Regions from separate parts of the Homo sapiens genome. Here region 1 is linked to region 2. The links come from fine-mapping of genetic effects on gene expression. Tissue or cell type: anterior cingulate cortex. Region 2 holds a variant in brackets; the other region holds the start of a gene. All regions are shown on one strand. Distances are from middle to middle.

What was found. PIP is the estimated chance that this variant, and not a neighbour inherited with it, causes the effect.
Region 1: it holds the start of TAF1C, and the variant in region 2 is fine-mapped to the expression of TAF1C in anterior cingulate cortex (GTEx, PIP 0.98).

Annotation. Positions count from the first base shown.
Region 1 is chr16:84,182,197-84,190,303 of GRCh38, reverse strand. TAF1C (TATA-box binding protein associated factor, RNA polymerase I subunit C) reads left to right here and starts at 3,247. Exons shown (of 15, transcript NM_001243156.2): 1 at 3,247-3,403; 2 at 5,244-5,453; 3 at 6,526-6,607; 4 at 6,797-6,894; 5 at 6,971-7,060; 6 at 7,155-7,228; 7 at 7,864-8,102. The coding sequence starts at 5,316. RefSeq lists a silencer at 3,052-3,261 and an enhancer at 2,907-3,407.
Region 2 is chr16:83,729,528-83,737,634 of GRCh38, reverse strand. All of the region lies in intron 10 of CDH13 (cadherin 13), which reads right to left. All of the region lies in intron 1 of CEDORA (CDH13 antisense oligodendrocyte and neuron associated lncRNA), which reads left to right. Among named protein-coding and RNA genes, the nearest start is that of CEDORA, 39 kb to the left of the region's middle. The variant G/A (reference allele first, on the strand shown) is at 4,091.

The sequences.
Region 1 (8,107 bases), 450 kb before region 2:
GAAGACAATTTACACAAGGCTTACTGTGATGCAACGCGTATTTGCTTGAAGGAGGCTGCAAGTTTAACGGAGTCTTACAGTAGCCACTAACTTGGGAAAGCATGACCAGTGTCTGTAAGATTTGTCACAGTGCTTGCTGCTGCTGCTGCTGAAGCTGGGCCTGGCAGCTCTCTCCAGGATTGTGACAGTGAGGATGCTGGGGCATATGAGGACCAGGTGGTGGAGTCCTCCCAGAACCTTTGACTTGGAAGAAGCAGGTGTGGTGGGCTGGGTAGTCAGCCTCCCCAACATGTCAAGAATTGACATCAGGAAGAACAATTCCATTTTGTGTGTGTGTGCAGCCCAGAGAGTGGGATGAGGCCCAGGAGAGTGAAGGGACAGCACAGCAGATGTCCAGAAATGGACTGAGGGCTGCACATATCCACAGAGAGACTTCCACAAAGTCATCAAACCCAGTAACGCCCCAAACGCTCACCAACAGGAGGTTGCGTGAACAAATCAATGGTATATTCATACAATGGAACACGACTCACTAATTTAAAAAGGAAACAACAGCTGCGTACACAACACAGGTGAATCTATTAGGCACATGGCGTGGAAGAAGCCAGACACATCCTCTCCATGATTCCACTTATGTAAAGTTCTTGAACTGGCAAAACTAATCTGTGGTGATAAGAGTCCAAATAGTGGTTCCTTCTTGAAGGAAGTATTGACTGGGAAGTGGCACCAGGGAATTTTCTTTTTAGAAAAAAATTTTGTAGAGATGGGGGTTTTGCTCTGTTGACCAGTCTGGTCTTGAACTCCTGGACTCAAGCAACCCTCCCACCTCGGCCTCCCAAAGTGCTGGAATTATAGGCATGAGCCACTGTGCCTGGCTGGAACTTTCTTGAGTGATAGAAATGTTCTCTGTCTTGATCTGGGTGGTGTTCATGTGGGTTTCTATGTATGAATAAAAATTCAATGAGCTGTACATTTAAGACTCGTGTGCTTTACTGCATGTTGAGTATATGTCAGTTACAAAAGCAAATTGATAATGGCTTATTCAGAGAAAGGAGGAAAGGAAGAAATGGAACTGGCCTCGCAGTGCCAAAGCTGGATAGGCGTTTTACAAGGGTAATGTAGAATATTAGTGTGGTAGGCAAAATAATGGTTCCCCCAAAGATGTCTACAGCCTAATCCCCAGAACCTATGAGTATATTATTTGGCAAGGGGGCATTAAGGTTGCAGGTGGAAGTAAGGTTGCTAATCAGCTGCCTTTAAAATAGGGCTCTCACCTGTAACCCCAGCACTTTGGGAGGCCCAGGTGGGAAGGTAGCTTGAGCCCAGGAGTTAGAGACCAACTTGGGCAACATGATGAAATCCCATCTCTACAAAAACTACAAAAATTAGGCCGGGCGTGGTGGCTCATGCCTGTAATCCCAGCACTTTGGGAGGCCAAGGCGGGTGGATCACATGGTCAGGAGTTCAAGACCAGCCTGGCCAATATGGTGAAACCCCGTCCCTACTACAAATACAAAAATTAGCTGGGTGTGGTGGCAGGCACCTGTAGTCTCAGCTACTCGGGAGGCTGAGGCAGGAAAATCGTTTGAACCTGGAAGGTGGAGGTTGTAGTGAGCCAAGATCACGCCACTGCACTCCAGCCTGGGTGACAGAGTGAAACTCTGTCTCAAAATAAAAAAAAAAAAAGAAAATTAGCCAGGCATGGTGGTGCTTGCATGTAATCCCAGCTACTCGAGAGACTGAGGTGGGAGAATCATCTCAGCCTGGGAAGTTGAGGCTGCAATGAGCCATGATGGTACCACTGCACCCTAGCCTGGGCGACAGAGTGAGACCCTGTCTCAAAAAAATAAATAAAACAAATAAAATAGGGAGATTATCCTGGATTACCTGGGCGGGCCTACTATAATCACATGGGTCCTTACATGGGAAAGAGGGAGACAGAAGAGTAAAAACCAGAGAGATGGCCTCATGAGAAGAATCCGACTGGCATTGCTGGCTTTGAAGATGGAAAGGGGTCATGAGCCAAGGAATGCAGGCAGCTTCCAGAAGCCAGAAAAGACAAGATAGTGGACTCTTCCTTAGAGCCTCTCAAAAGGAACACAGCCCTGCTGGCACTTTTAGTCCAGGTAAAAACTTCCAGATAAAAACAATATAGGCCAGGCGTGGTGGCTCATCCTGTAATCCCAGCAATTTGGGAGGCCTAGGCAGGCGGATCACTTGAGGTCAGGAGTTCAAGACTCAGCCTGACCAACATGGTGAAACCCCGTCTCTACTAAAAATACAAAAATTAGCCGGGCATGGTGGCGCAGGCCTGTAATCCCAGCTACTCGGGAGGCTGAGGCAGAAGAATTGCTTGAACCCAAGAGGCGGAGGTTGCAGTGTGCCAAGATCGTGCCACTGCACTCTAGCCTCCATCTCAAAAAAATAAATAAAGACATAGATGACAGCTGAGAATTTGGAAATTGATTCTTTAAAGCAACGGTTCTCAAAGTATGGCCCCTGGACCAGCATCATCTGGGAACTTGCTAGAAATGCAGACTCTTGGGCCACATCCCAGATCTACTGAATCAGCAACTCGGGGGGCAGAGGTAGGGTGGAGCCTAGCAAACTTGTAACAAGCCCCCCAGGTGGTTCTAAGGCTCACTGAAGTTTGAGAAGTACTATGTTAGGATAACGGTAAGGTTCATGACTGGACAGTGGTTCTTAAAGCATGGCCCCCAGATAAGCAGTTTCAGCATCACCTGGGAACTTAGGCAAATCATCAGGTCCCACCCCAGACTCACCGAATTGGAGACTGTGTTTTAACTAGCCCCCCAGGTGCTACTGCTGACGCACGCTAGCTAGAGTTTGAAGACCACTGCCTAAAGCTCTCCCTGCCTGACCACCCCTGGAAAAGCTTCACTCTTAGTAGGTATTTGTACCCTTATTTGTAAAGCCCGCTTCTTGGGATTTAAGGACAATCAGTAGGATACCTACTGACCAATACAGGTCTGGCTTATAGTAGGTGTTCTGTGGGAGTTCGTTAAATGATTAATTTAATACAACTCTGAGGAAATTGGTGAAGTAGATGTGGGATTCGAACCTAAGTCCACCCGGCCTCCACTATTGGGACTCAAGGGAGCTTTATTTCCGCTGCCCACGCGCCGCCTGCACGCCCGTTCCCTCTCCTCCCGGGAGGGGGCGCGCCAGGACCCTAAGAGGCCTGGCTGGGAGGCGGGACTTCCTGCCTCCGCAGGAGGCACTTCCGGTCCAAACCGGAAGACCGTGGGTAGCTGCGGCGGGGCTGACCCGTCCCGAGTGCCAAAGCTGGGGTTCTACTTGAGATTTCCCTCGTGGTGCCAGGGTCCGGCGAGCATCACGCCGAGGCCCATTTTCCAGACGACCACGACGAGGCCGGGGTCACGTAAGTGCACGCATGCGCCCCCTCCGCGCGGACTGCGCGTGTTCGAGGAGCGGACCCGCAGATGTAGGAGGGGAGGGACGCCCCCAATCCCCAGTCCCCGCGGCAGGCTCACGTTTCGCAGTCCCCGGCCTGTCGTTATTGCGGATCCGACTGAGTTCTGTAGCCTTGGAGGTCTAAAGGGTCCTGGAGAGCCCGCAGCGAGGGCGGGAAGCCGGCCGGGGAAGTCGAGGCTGCCTTGTCTGAGGGCTTTTGTGGGGTCGTGCTCTCCACCAGCGCCCTCCGCCTGTCTAGGATCGTTTCAGGCTATGCGGTTCCAAGAGAAAATATTTTTGTTTCTATTTTATTTTTGAGATAGAACCTTGCTCTGTCACCCAGGCTGGAGTGCTGTGGCATGATCTTGGCTCACTGCAACCTCTGCCTCCCAGATTCAAGCGATTTTCGTGCCCAGCCTCCTCGGTAGTTGCGATTACAGGTGTACACCACCACGCCCGGCTAATTTTTGTATTTTTAGTATTGACAGGGTTTCACTGTATTGGCCGGACTGGTCTCAAACTTCTGGCCTCAGGTGATCCGCCCGCCTTGGCCTCCCAAAGTGCTGGGATTGCAGGCGGGAGCCACCGCACCCGGCCAAAGGGAAAAGATTTTTGTATAGCGAGACTCTAATGCTAGCGTTTGCATTTCGGTGCATGCGAGAGCACTGGTTCGGAGCTCTGCCTCTGAATCGGATGGGAATCAAGTCTTGGCTGTGGCAGCTAAGAGCTGTTGGACTAAAGTTCTTGCTGAGCCTTCGTTTCCTGAACTCTGTTAACAGGGACGGCGATAGAAGAGTGCAGCATTTAGCATGTGCCTGGCAGATAGATGCTGGCGCTTGGTCAGCGAGCGCTGCTGTTATTTTTGCCCCTGTTATTTTTGTTAATTAAAAAGGAGGGATGCTATGGCTGCTCATACTTCTAGAGGACTGTATTTACCAAAGCCTTGTGATGTAATTTTTTTTTTTCTTGAGATGGAGTTTCGCTCTTGTTGCCCAGGCTACAGTGCAATGGCGCGATCTCAGCTCACCGCAACCTCCGCCTCCCGGCTTCAAGGAATTCTCCTGCCTCAGCCTCCCGAGTAGCTGGGATTACAGGCATGCGTCACCACGCCCGGCTAATTTTGTATTTTTAGTAGAGACCGGGTTTCTCCACATTGGTCAGGCCAGTCTCGAACTCCCGACCTCAGGTGATCCGCCTGCCTCGGCCTCCCAAAGTACTAGGATTACCGGCGTGAGCCACCGCGCCCGGCCCCTTGTGATAGAAATTTATTTTTTTCAACCCCTAGTGCATTTTCTGGGAGGCACTGTGCTTGACAGTAGGAAGACGATGCTCAGATGCAGTCCCTGGCTGTGGAGTAACTTGAGCGTCTTGGGGGTGTAGTCTGTAAATGTATGATGACGGTACTTACGAGCCGGGAGAGAGGCTGCCCCTTGCCGTCTTTCTGACTCCATCTCCACCGCTCTCCACCTCGCTCACTCTGGCTGCCTCATTTTCTCACACACTTCACTGCTCTAGGATTTTCACAGTTGTTGACCGTTCGGCCTGGAACCCTCTTCCCAGTTGCGTACATGGTTCTCTCCTTCACTAGGTTCAGGCTGTGCTCAAACGCCACCTTCTCAACGAGGCTTTTCCTGGCTGGCTTTGCTGAAACCACGCCCTCAGCCCACTACCAGATCCCCTTCTCCTGGACGGGTGGTTGGCTTTAATACAGTTCTCACTACTGCTTGGCCTTGGGCTACATATTTGTTTTTTGTTATCTGCTTCCTCAAAGAACATATGCTTCCCGTAGTGCACTTTTCACTCCTCAGGAACTCTGGCGCCCCTTACCAGCTTCCAGTCTCTCGAGGTGGCCAGTGTGGTGCTTGGTCCTTGTTTCCAGGATGGACTTCCCCAGCTCCCTCCGCCCTGCATTGTTTCTGACCGGCCCCCTTGGTCTGAGCGACGTCCCTGACCTCTCTTTCATGTGCAGCTGGCGAGACGCACTGACTCTGCCAGAGGCCCAGCCCCAGAACTCAGAGGTGAGGATGCAGGCAGGGGGCCCTGGCAGCTCCAGGGACATCCCTTCCCTGGGTCCCCCGTCTCACATTCACATCAGTTGACAAGGCCACAGAGTGGTGGCATTCACACGAGTCTGCTGAGACACAGGCTCTGCCACCTCCTCTGGGGTACATGGGCTACCCTGCCATCCCTAGACGGATGCCCCCACTATGCCGGGTCCCTTATGAGACCGTGAGAATGCTGCCTGAATCAGTCGGTTGACCCCTCCCTTCCTGGAACGGAGAGCTGAGTTGAGCGAGAATAAACAAGTGAACTTTATCCAATGGATAAGGTGTTTACAAAATGTGATCAGAGCTTGGAATGAAAGCAGAAGGATGCTGAAACAGCATAGTAGGGTTGGGAGAGGGGAGGATAGACCTGCAGGGTTTCTGCTGCCTCTGGAGGGACACTGGCCCTTTGCTTGGAATCCTCAGCCGCCTAGTTCCCCTTGGAAACACCCTGTCTGGGAATGAAGCCTGGCAGAGGCAAGTGGGTGAGCAAATAAAAAGAGAGACAGTGGAGCAGAGGCTTGGGGAACGGGGGTCAGGGATGGCATCCTTACGAGGGAGGGTCTGGCGTCAAATTGGGGCTCCTCTGGGAGTCTGGTTTCCTAGCTCTTTTGTCCCCTGAATGTCTGGGCCGAAACATCCCAGGCCAGCCCAGCAAAGGGAGGTGGAGCCGCCTGCCGGGCTCCCAGAGTGACTGCAAGGTCTCCTGAATGGAAGTGAGGTTACGTGAGATGTGGACCAGCCACTGGTGGCATGAGGGGCTTCCTTCTTTGAGAGCCAGCACAGGTGGAGGTCGGAAACAGGAGCTCTGGGGTCAGGCTGCCTGGGTTCACATCCCAGCTCTTCTCTTTACCGGCTCTGTCTTCTGGGGCAAATGGCAGTGTGCCTCAGTTTCTTCAGCAGTAAAATGACAATGCCAGTCATCCCAGCTTCGCAGGATTGTTGTGAGGATTGGATGAGTTGATAAGAGATGAATGCCTGTGCACAGCCTGGCCCAGGGAGGGCATTCATCATGATACTGTCCTTGCGATTGTCCTCCCTTCAGAATGGGGCACTGCATGTGACCAAGGACCTGCTGTGGGAGCCGGCAACCCCTGGGCCTCTCCCCATGCTGCCTCCCCTCATCGGTAAGGGTCTCATTCCCCCGGGCTCACTCCACACTGCTCCACCTATTCTTCCCACTGCTCCCGCTCCTGAGACCTTCCTCTCCCTGCTAAGCCTGTGCCTGCTCAGGACCCTTGGATACCTCCAGTCGCCCAGGGCATCTGGCCGCACTCCTGTGCCCTCCCCAGCCCTTTCCGTAACCTCCTTCTCAGATCCCTGGGACCCTGGCCTGACTGCCCGGGACCTGCTTTTCCGCGGAGGGTGCCGGTATCGGAAGCGGCCCCGAGTCGTGCTGGATGTGACTGAGCAGGTGAGTGGGCCCACGGGGGACAGTGCTGCGTAGCCTGGAGACTGTGCTTAGTGACCTGGCCTCCTCTTCTCCCCAGATCAGCCGGTTCCTCTTGGATCATGGAGACGTAGCCTTTGCGCCCCTGGGGAAGCTGATGCTGGAGAATTTCAAGCTGGAGGGAGCGGGGGTGAGTGGCCCGTGACTCCAGGGGTGGGGACTCCCTGCTGTCCTTCAGGGGTGAACTCGAGGGTGTGTGAGCCTGACAAGGCCTTTCCATGCAGAGCCGCACTAAGAAGAAGACAGTGGTCAGTGTGAAGAAGCTGCTCCAGGACCTCGGTGGACACCAGCCCTGGGGGCAAGTGGCTGATGAGAAAGGAGGAGATGGATAGGCATAGCTGGTGGTGGGGATGTAGGAGGTGCTAGGACGCACGTACAGCTTTCCGTCATACCCACTTCCCCCCTGCTCCATGCAGTCTGAGCTGTACTTTCTTATACCAGACTTCCAACTCCAAATCATCTCAGGGGAAAGCAGATTTACATTTGTGGAGTTCAGGCACAGCTGCATCCAGGTGTTCAAATAATGTTCATAGAGCTGTGTCTCTCTTTCCTGTCTCGTCCACTTGCCTCTCCCTGCACAGTTCCCTAGACAGGCTGTCTCTAGGTAGCAGCAAGATGGCTTATGATCTAAGGAAAGAGCCAGTGTCCTTCCTGCGGCACCAGAAGTCCCAGAAAGGACTTTGGTTGGCTTGGCTTGGGTCTCACACCCATCTGTGAACCAGTCACTGTGGCAAGGGCAATGGAATATTGTTGGTGGCCAGGTCTGGGTCACATGATTGCTTCCGGGGCATGGGAACAGGATGGGGTGGTCTCCCAAAGGAAGAAATTCTAGGTAAATAAGAAATGTGTCCACTGCACTTGGCCTCCTTGGGATGGGACCTGTCCTCCCCTGAGTGCCACCGAGTGATCCTCCTGCTGTTCTCTGGTCCCCAGGTGTCCCTGGGCTTACCTCAGCAACCGACAGCGCCGCTTCTCTATCCTCGGGGGCCCCATCCTGGGCACGTCGGTGGCGAGCCACTTGGCAGAGCTGCTGCACGAGGAGCTGGTGCTGCGGTGGGAGCAGCTGCTTCTGGATGAGGCCTGCACTGGGGGCGCGCTGGCCTGGGTTCCTGGAAGGACACCCCAGTTCGGGCAGCTGGTCTACCCTGCTGGAGGCGCCCAGGACAGGCTGCGTATC
Region 2 (8,107 bases):
ATAATGATTTAAACTCTGAGGTGGAAACCAGGTCTATGTCCCACAGCTGGGCTTTCCTTAGTGGGGAATAACTCAGGAACATAGGACTGGAATTTACAGGATGGCAATATTTCCCAAAAAAAAAAGAACCCTATTACATAGATATAAAGCTTTCTTAAAATTATATTTCTGCTTATAAAAATCATACACATTTGAGAAAGGTTTAAAATCACACAGCACATGTGTGTGAATTTAATATCTTCATCACTATCAATGGTGAAACAATATTGGCTTAAACTGTTCTTTTATTGGAAGGCTCTTAGTAACTTCGAAGTCAAACTTCGAGACTTACCACTGAGATAAACTACTCAGTTGTGATGTAGATATCAAGGAACTTGAGTCTAACAGCGCTCACTAATAACTTAAGTCTGAGAATGATTTAGTCTAGGAAATAGGCGCTCTTTGCCATGTAGTCACTTTCAATAGTGGGCAGGAAAGGGGTGGGGCCACAGCTAGGTGCCACTGATTGTGGGCATGGTCAGCATGAATTACCAGCGTGCCTGCAGACAAACGCCTAAGAACCACTGTTTTGAGCTCCCACCCTTTTCTGCGGACTCTCTAACCTCTTCCTTTGTGTGTGAGCCCCACGTGCACCGAGCCTTCCCTGGCAAACAATGGAACTGACATTTCCTGGGCACCAGCTACTTGCCAGGGACTGCACACATCTTCTCTGAAAACCTCCTCACCACCTGTTCCAGGCAAGCAAGTCTGCTCCTAGTTTCTTCTGGCAAAGGTCATACCGGGCGTCTTGTTCGAGGCCATTAATTCTTTGTTAGAATTTACCAAAGGTCTCCCAACTGCTGCAATAGGACCTTTTTGTGCCTGCAATAAGATTTTGCTGTGGCCGGGCTCTTCCTAGTCAGGGCTTGCTAGTCCATTTTGCAGATTTATTTCCAGGGGTGATTGACATAGTTTCCGCTAGGCGCTCACTGCCACTGCCCTCCCCCACCCCATTTTTGAAACCTACGTGAATACAGCAGCTATTAGAGTAAGGAAACAACGTCTTCACAACTTTATAAGTGTCTTTGCAAAGACATTTATATCTCATATAAAGGGACATTTGACACTTCGTAAGGGTCATTTCGTTGTTGCTTTTGACCAAATTGACTGCCAAGCAATACAGAGAAATACAGACAAAGAGATTCAGGGTATAAAGCCACAAATTTAACAATATCATACACATTGAGTAAATTAGGAAATAAAAAATTAAACAGTAATTAAACATTGAGAGACTAGGACCTTAACATATTTAGTTACCATATTAACAGGCTGAGACTTCAGAAGCTATCCGATTTCTGAAATCCAGAAATACACTTATCAATCCTAGGTGAAAACAGGGATTGAACACTCTTAGTATGGGTAAAAGCATTACACAGATGCTTTAAGGTGCAACCACAAGATAGCTTTCATGATTAATTTTCATTATCATTATTAATGACTGATCAAGTCTGATCCTATAGGTAATCTAGGTCTAAGGTTAAATTTGCTACATCCATGTATCCAGATTGGGTGGCTTTTTCTAAGCAGCAGAAATGGCGCTTGGAAAAGAACAGGACGACTTGGAGTTTGGTACCAGTTGGTAGCAACGTAAGCTTTACTTGGTGTGAGGCTCTTCATCCATTTGTTCACACTCTTTTCATTCAGTGTGTTTTATCCCTTTTTTCCCTGCATTCCTAGGCCTGAATATATACAAATATGAACAAGACCCACAAGGACTGCTCATCACCCCAGTATTCCATTTACAACATCCTGAATGAACTCCCGACCAGGCCTATAATTCTCTCTTGCAGCCAAATATCCTGCTTACTCCTGGTATCTACCTGGTCAGCAGACCTCATGAGTTATCGCCCAGTGACAAAACCATCCCAAAGATGCACCAGTCCAGCACAAAGTATGACTGTCAATCTCACAAAAGATGTAGGGTTCTACGAGGATACTCAGAGTATAAGAATTACGCTAAGTGAAATAAGCCAAGCCCAGAAAGACACATACTTTATTATTTCATGTATCTGTGGAATCTAAAAGAGTCAAATTCATGGCAGCAGGGAGAGGGCTGAAGAAGGGGGAGATGTTGATCAAAGTTTCTATGTATACAAAGACCAAACCATCACATTATGCCTCATAAATATATACAATTATTATTTGCTAATTACAAGTAAAGCAATACAAGAAGAAAAAAAGGAATCATAAGTAAATCCATGACAAGTGAAAACGCAATGGAGAGAAGGGAATCAATGATTGAAGAAGAGAAAGGACAGTGGATTTACAACTGCTTCGAAAGAGTGATTTGACTGGCAAAGGACTGGGGAGAGGTCCTTTGGGAAATGGACAAAGCCCTCGAATGGTTAGGAAAGACAATCTCTTTATAAATGCAGGGCATAAGCTGAGCACAAGGTGAAGTTTGGCATGTACTGCCGTGGGATGTTGTAAAAATTATGTCAAAAGCAAAGCAATTCTTGGTTCATCTGTGTTCACTGTGAGACTAGCCTATTATTGGGGTTAAACTTATAAACAAACTTCTATTCATCATTTTTTTCTCCAAAATAAAGTGATCAAATTGTCCCACAGAACTGACGCTTATGTTTTTTTTTTTTTGAATAACCACAGAAATTGTTCCTTCCAGACTTTAAAACTTGAGAAAGTTACAATTGTCTTATCTGAGTTCCTTTCTCAAGAAGCCAACCATCAGGTCTCCCAGATAAAATCAAGGAGCTGAAACTTACCAGACCACTGCCTCTGGATAATGAGGAGCCAGACCCCTCATCCATCAGGATTGCCTAAAGGACCACCTGCTTCCTACTGACCAACTTCTCTTCCTTGCCCCGCTTTAATCCCTGTTTTTATTATTATTATTATTATTATTATTATACTTTAAGTTTTAAGGTACATGTGCACAATGTGCAGGTTAGTTACATATGTATACATGTGCCATGCTGGTGTGCTGCACCCATTAACTCGTCATTTAGCATTAGGTATATCTCCTAATGCTATCCCTCCCCCCTTCCCCCACCCCACAACAGTCCCCAGAGTGTGATGTTCCCCTTCCTGTGTCCATGTGTTCTCATTGTTCAATTCCCATCTATGAGTGAGAACATGCGGTGTTTGGTTTTTTGTCCTTGCGATAGTTTACTGAGAATGATGATTTCCAATTTCATCCATGTTTTCCCAAACACGGTTACATTTCCTCTCTGGTGCATCAACCCCTCATTTCAGAGATGGATTTGAGACTGACCTCCCATTTCCTTGGCTGCAGCAGCACCCGATTAAAGCCTTCTTCCCTGGCTTTTGTCTTGTCTCAGTGATTGGCTTTCTGTGCAGTGAACAGCAGGACCCAGACCAAACCCCTGGTGCTTCGGTAACAATTACATCTTAACCAAATACATATATTTTTTCAGTTTTGAGTCACACTTTGGTCTTCACTTTAAATTGATTCATGGTAAGTTGCTTTTTTGTGCTTCCAGTCTTCTTTTGGTAAGGGCTGTTGGTGGTCCCTGTTTTTTGGTTCATGATTTGGAGTACATGGATGGTCACAGGAGGGGAGGTAAGGCTTTGGGGTTTAATCTGGTGACTAAACACTAATAACACTTTATTACAAGAGCAAAAAGCAGAATAAAATAGTCTGGTGCTCTGCTTCAGAGTTTCTGATAAGGCCCTCAGCAGCATGGAACCTGGGGCAGGGGGCTCTCTGCCTAAGTCTCAGGCTGCGCTGCTTGCAGGTCACGTTCCACTTTTGTCCACTTACGCCAAGGCATGGTGGTGTCTGGACAGGTGATCAGTTTCCCAGGGTGGTTTATCTCAAAGAAACACGCTCACTGGGAGAGCAAACTGGGATGTCAGAAGACCAGAATGGGAAAGTTAATCACCCCTCTGTATTTGTTCTCAGAGTTTATTTTTATTGGGTGATTAACCGACACACCATGGCCTTTGCTCTGGCACCTGGGTCTCTGAGTCCAGCTCAGACCAAGCTGAGCATGGATATTGCCACTTTCAAGAAGTCAATAAATGAAGCCAGCTGCAGCGGGGACCACAGTGAGATAGATGGCTGAGCCTC[G/A]CATTATGACTTGAAGCTCAGTGAATGTGGTCTGGCCGGCTGCCAAGCAAGGAGGTACTTAGAGGCAGCTGTGCTTAGCTTAGGTGATGACGGGACCTCCCTCTCCAGTGGCATCCTAATAGACAACCGTCTATAGAGACTGCATTCGTGATGGAGGCCAGGTTACCGGGAGGGCTGCAGGGTCCCTGGGAGACAGAAGCATCTGGGTTTCACAAGGAGAGAGCTCACCCAGGAGCACGAGTCCAGTGTGCGCTCACGGATCATCATCCGGAGGCACCATCACCAAAACAGGTGATGCTGCTGGCTGTTCTGTGAAGGAGCTGGAGGGTTATTTCCATCACTGAGTGCTCAGAATCACACATTCCCAGCCCTGTGTACTGATTTCCAGTGTTCATTCCATACATACGCTTTGACCACCTTCTATCTTCCCAGTATTCTGTTAGGGACTGGGGAGTTTGCAGTGATCAAGGTGGGGAGCTTCCTGCCCTTGGGATGCGTATCTTCACCAAGGCATTTACTATCTGATGTTGTAATTTTCACACAAGGTAGCGAGCTCCCAGGGATACACTTTGTCTTTCCCTCTTCATGTAGGCAGTGAGTGGCCTCATGTCTGGCCATACAGGCCTTGGTTAAAGATGGGTGAGTGAATGGGCAGAAAAGTCAATGTGTCAGAAGCAAGTGGAAGAGCAGCCTGGAATTCCAAGGAGTTGATATCCCCAGGGATTTCAAGGCTCTGTGATGACAAGTGCAGCTGAATCCCTGCAGGAAGCAGTTGGGTTTGGTGCCCCTGGTGAGGTCAGGGGTGTCAAGTACTGAGATTAGCAAGGGGGATGAGATGTATCCTGGGCCTGCAAGCCTCCCTCTGTATGAGGATGCCAGCTGTTTCTACGTGTGGGAACATCAGTTGCCAGGAAGAATGTGGCTCAGCTCTGCTATCATCTTTCTGGATGTAGGAGGTTCTACATTAGCACTAGTGTAGAAACAGAACCCTACTACAGTTTCCGGGTCCTCTATTCTGTTGCTCACAGAACAGGAGAGTGAGATTTAAAAAATGTACGTCATGTCCCTTTCAGGCTTCAAAACCTTTGTGGCTTTGGGGACTGATCACTGCTCACCTCCCACCATCAACTCACCCTGTTCCCCAGTCCAAAGCTAGCCAGGCTCTCCCATCGTCCCAGCCTTTGCATTAGCTGTTGGTTTCTCCCCCTCACCTCTCCCCTTGGCTGGTTCATTATCACTCTTCAGATCACACATCATCTCCCTCCTAACCAGCCCATCTAAGGTGGCCTTCTCCAGTTACTCTCCATCCCATTAAGCTGTTGACTCTCCCATGGGAAAGAGCTGTAAGCTGTAATCACACCGGTTGTGTGATCAGACATTCATTGGCTTGTTCATTGCCGGTCTTCCCACTAGAATGGAAACTCCACACTGTCTTGTTCACTGCTATCCTCAGGGCTAGTTAGGACCCGGCTCACAGTGTGAATTTTTCAATATTTTTTGAATAAATAAATAAACCAGGATGATTACCTTTAGGTTGGATGTATGAAGAATAGCTAGCCTGTCCAAAACATTTACTTTCAGCCTTGTTATTTAATCTGAAAAGCAATATTCACAACTGGCATTTATCGACTACCTGCTACCTGTCATGCAGCATTTAAATCTTCCACAAACCTTTGAGCTAGTTTATACACGAGAATTTTGCTCATTTTACATTTTCCTGTCTGAAGTCTAGAAAAAGAAAATGGATACTTTCTGAATAAATCAACCTCTTCTAAACTGACTTGCCAGAAGACGAGAAAAGAATCCAGCTGGAAAAAACCTAGGAAATAGCATTCTGCACATTGACCTTGGCAAAGAATTTATGACAAAGTCCCCAAAAGCAATTGCACCAAAAACAAAAATTGGCAAAGAAACTATCAACAGAATAAACAGACAACCTATAGAATGGAAAGAAATATTCACAAATTATGCTTCCAACAAAGGTCTAATATCCAGAATCTATAAGTAACTTTAACAACTCAACAAGCAAACAACTACCCCATTACAAAATGGTCAAAGACATGAACAGACACTTTGCAAAAGAACACATACGTGCGGTCAACAAACATATGAAGAAATGCTCCACGTCACTAATCCTCAGAGAAATGCAAATCAAAACCACAATGAGATACCATCTCACACCAGTCAGAATAGCTATTATTAAAAAGTCAAAAAATGACAGATGCTGCCCAGGTTACAGAGAAAAGGGAACTCTTATACACTGTTGGTGCGAATGTAAATCAGTTCAGCCCCTGTCCAAAGCAGTTTGGAGATTTCTCAAAGAACTTAGAACAGAACTACCATTTGACTCAGCAATCCTACTACTGGGTGTTTATCCAAAAGAAGATAAATTGTTTTGCCAAAAAGACACATGCACTTGTATGTTTATCACAGCACAATGCACAATGGCAAGCACAAGGAACCAATCCAGGTGCTCATCAATGGTGGAATGGATAAAGAAAATGCAGTGCGTGTATACCATGGAATACTATGCAGCTGTGAAAAAGGATGAAATTGTGTTCTTTGCAGCAACATGGATGCAGCTGGAGGCCATTAACCTAAGCGAATTAGCACAGGGACAGAAAACCAAATACTGCATGTTCTCAGTTCTAAGTGGGAGCTAAACATTGAGTACACACAGACACAAAGATGGGAGCAATAGACATTGGGGACTACTAGAAGGGGGAGCATGGAAGGGGTGTAAGGGTTGAAAACTATCGGGTACTATGCACACTGTCTGGGTGATGGGATCACTCATACCCCAAACTTCAGCAACACGCAATAGACCCAGGTAATAAACCTGCCCATGGACCCCCTGAATCTAAAAGCTCAAAAAAACCACAAACCAAAAAACGAAAACAAAACAAAAACAAACAAACAAAAAACCCAGGTGATCCTTTGTACCCAGTTCAATTGTATGAATTTTTTAAAAGAATACCACCGTATATTTTAGTGTGTTGAACTTTTCATCGAATTGTGATTTTAAAAAGTCACAGTTTAGCCCAGAAGGAGGTATCTCCAAGTTTGTCAGTTCCTAAAACAACATTCTAGAGGGAAACAAATGAAAATCTCTTGGAACTGTACATATTCTTTGACCCAGAAATTCTTCCTCTAATTATTTAGCTTAAAGAAATAGCTATAGGGAGCACATTCCAAAACTGGGGAATGCCAGGTTAATAACATCAAATGAGGTCCCCCTTTGCGCAAGAATTCTCAGAGCCTTTAATACTCAGATTTGCATTGTGAAGATCTGAGAGAGGGCCTTAGAATAATGCATAGCTCAGACTTATTTGGCTGAAATATTTAGCGACAATTATATTTTCTCCTTCAATGTTTACTATAGAAAAATAAAAAATCAATCAGGGAACTGTTGATCAAAAGTGATAATGGAATGCTACGTAGACATTAAAAGCCATGATGAACACAGCATGACAAGATGACAACACATACGAAGTAAATCTTTATAGTAGGTAGGTATGTGTATAGCACCGTGAGGGTCCACATGCAAACATGTGGCAGGCTCGCTGCCCCCTTCTCACAAGCACGGTAATGACTTGGCAATGGCCAGGTCAGCTTCAAAACCCCTCTTTGTATGAAGCCCTGTGTGCCAAACCCTTCTTTTTCACAGGGCTTGACATACAATCCCAAACAGATTTGCTGCTGCTGGCTGAGAAAATACCTTGGAAGGGAATGCTAGTGGCAGTTGCGGTAATAATTATGATCATGATGATGATAATAATAGAGTCACAGATAATATTTATTGAGCACTTGCTTTGTGCCAGGGAATTTCCAAGCACTTTACATGGGTCAGCTTATTTAAGTCTAACAATAACTTCATGTGGGTGGGATTACTGACCCATTATATAGATGAAGAAACAGAGGTGGTGAGGGACTAAGTAGCTGGGTCCAGGACACACAGCTAGTAAGTGATAGAGTTGTCCAACCATAGCGCCCATGCTCTTAACAGTGATGCCTCGC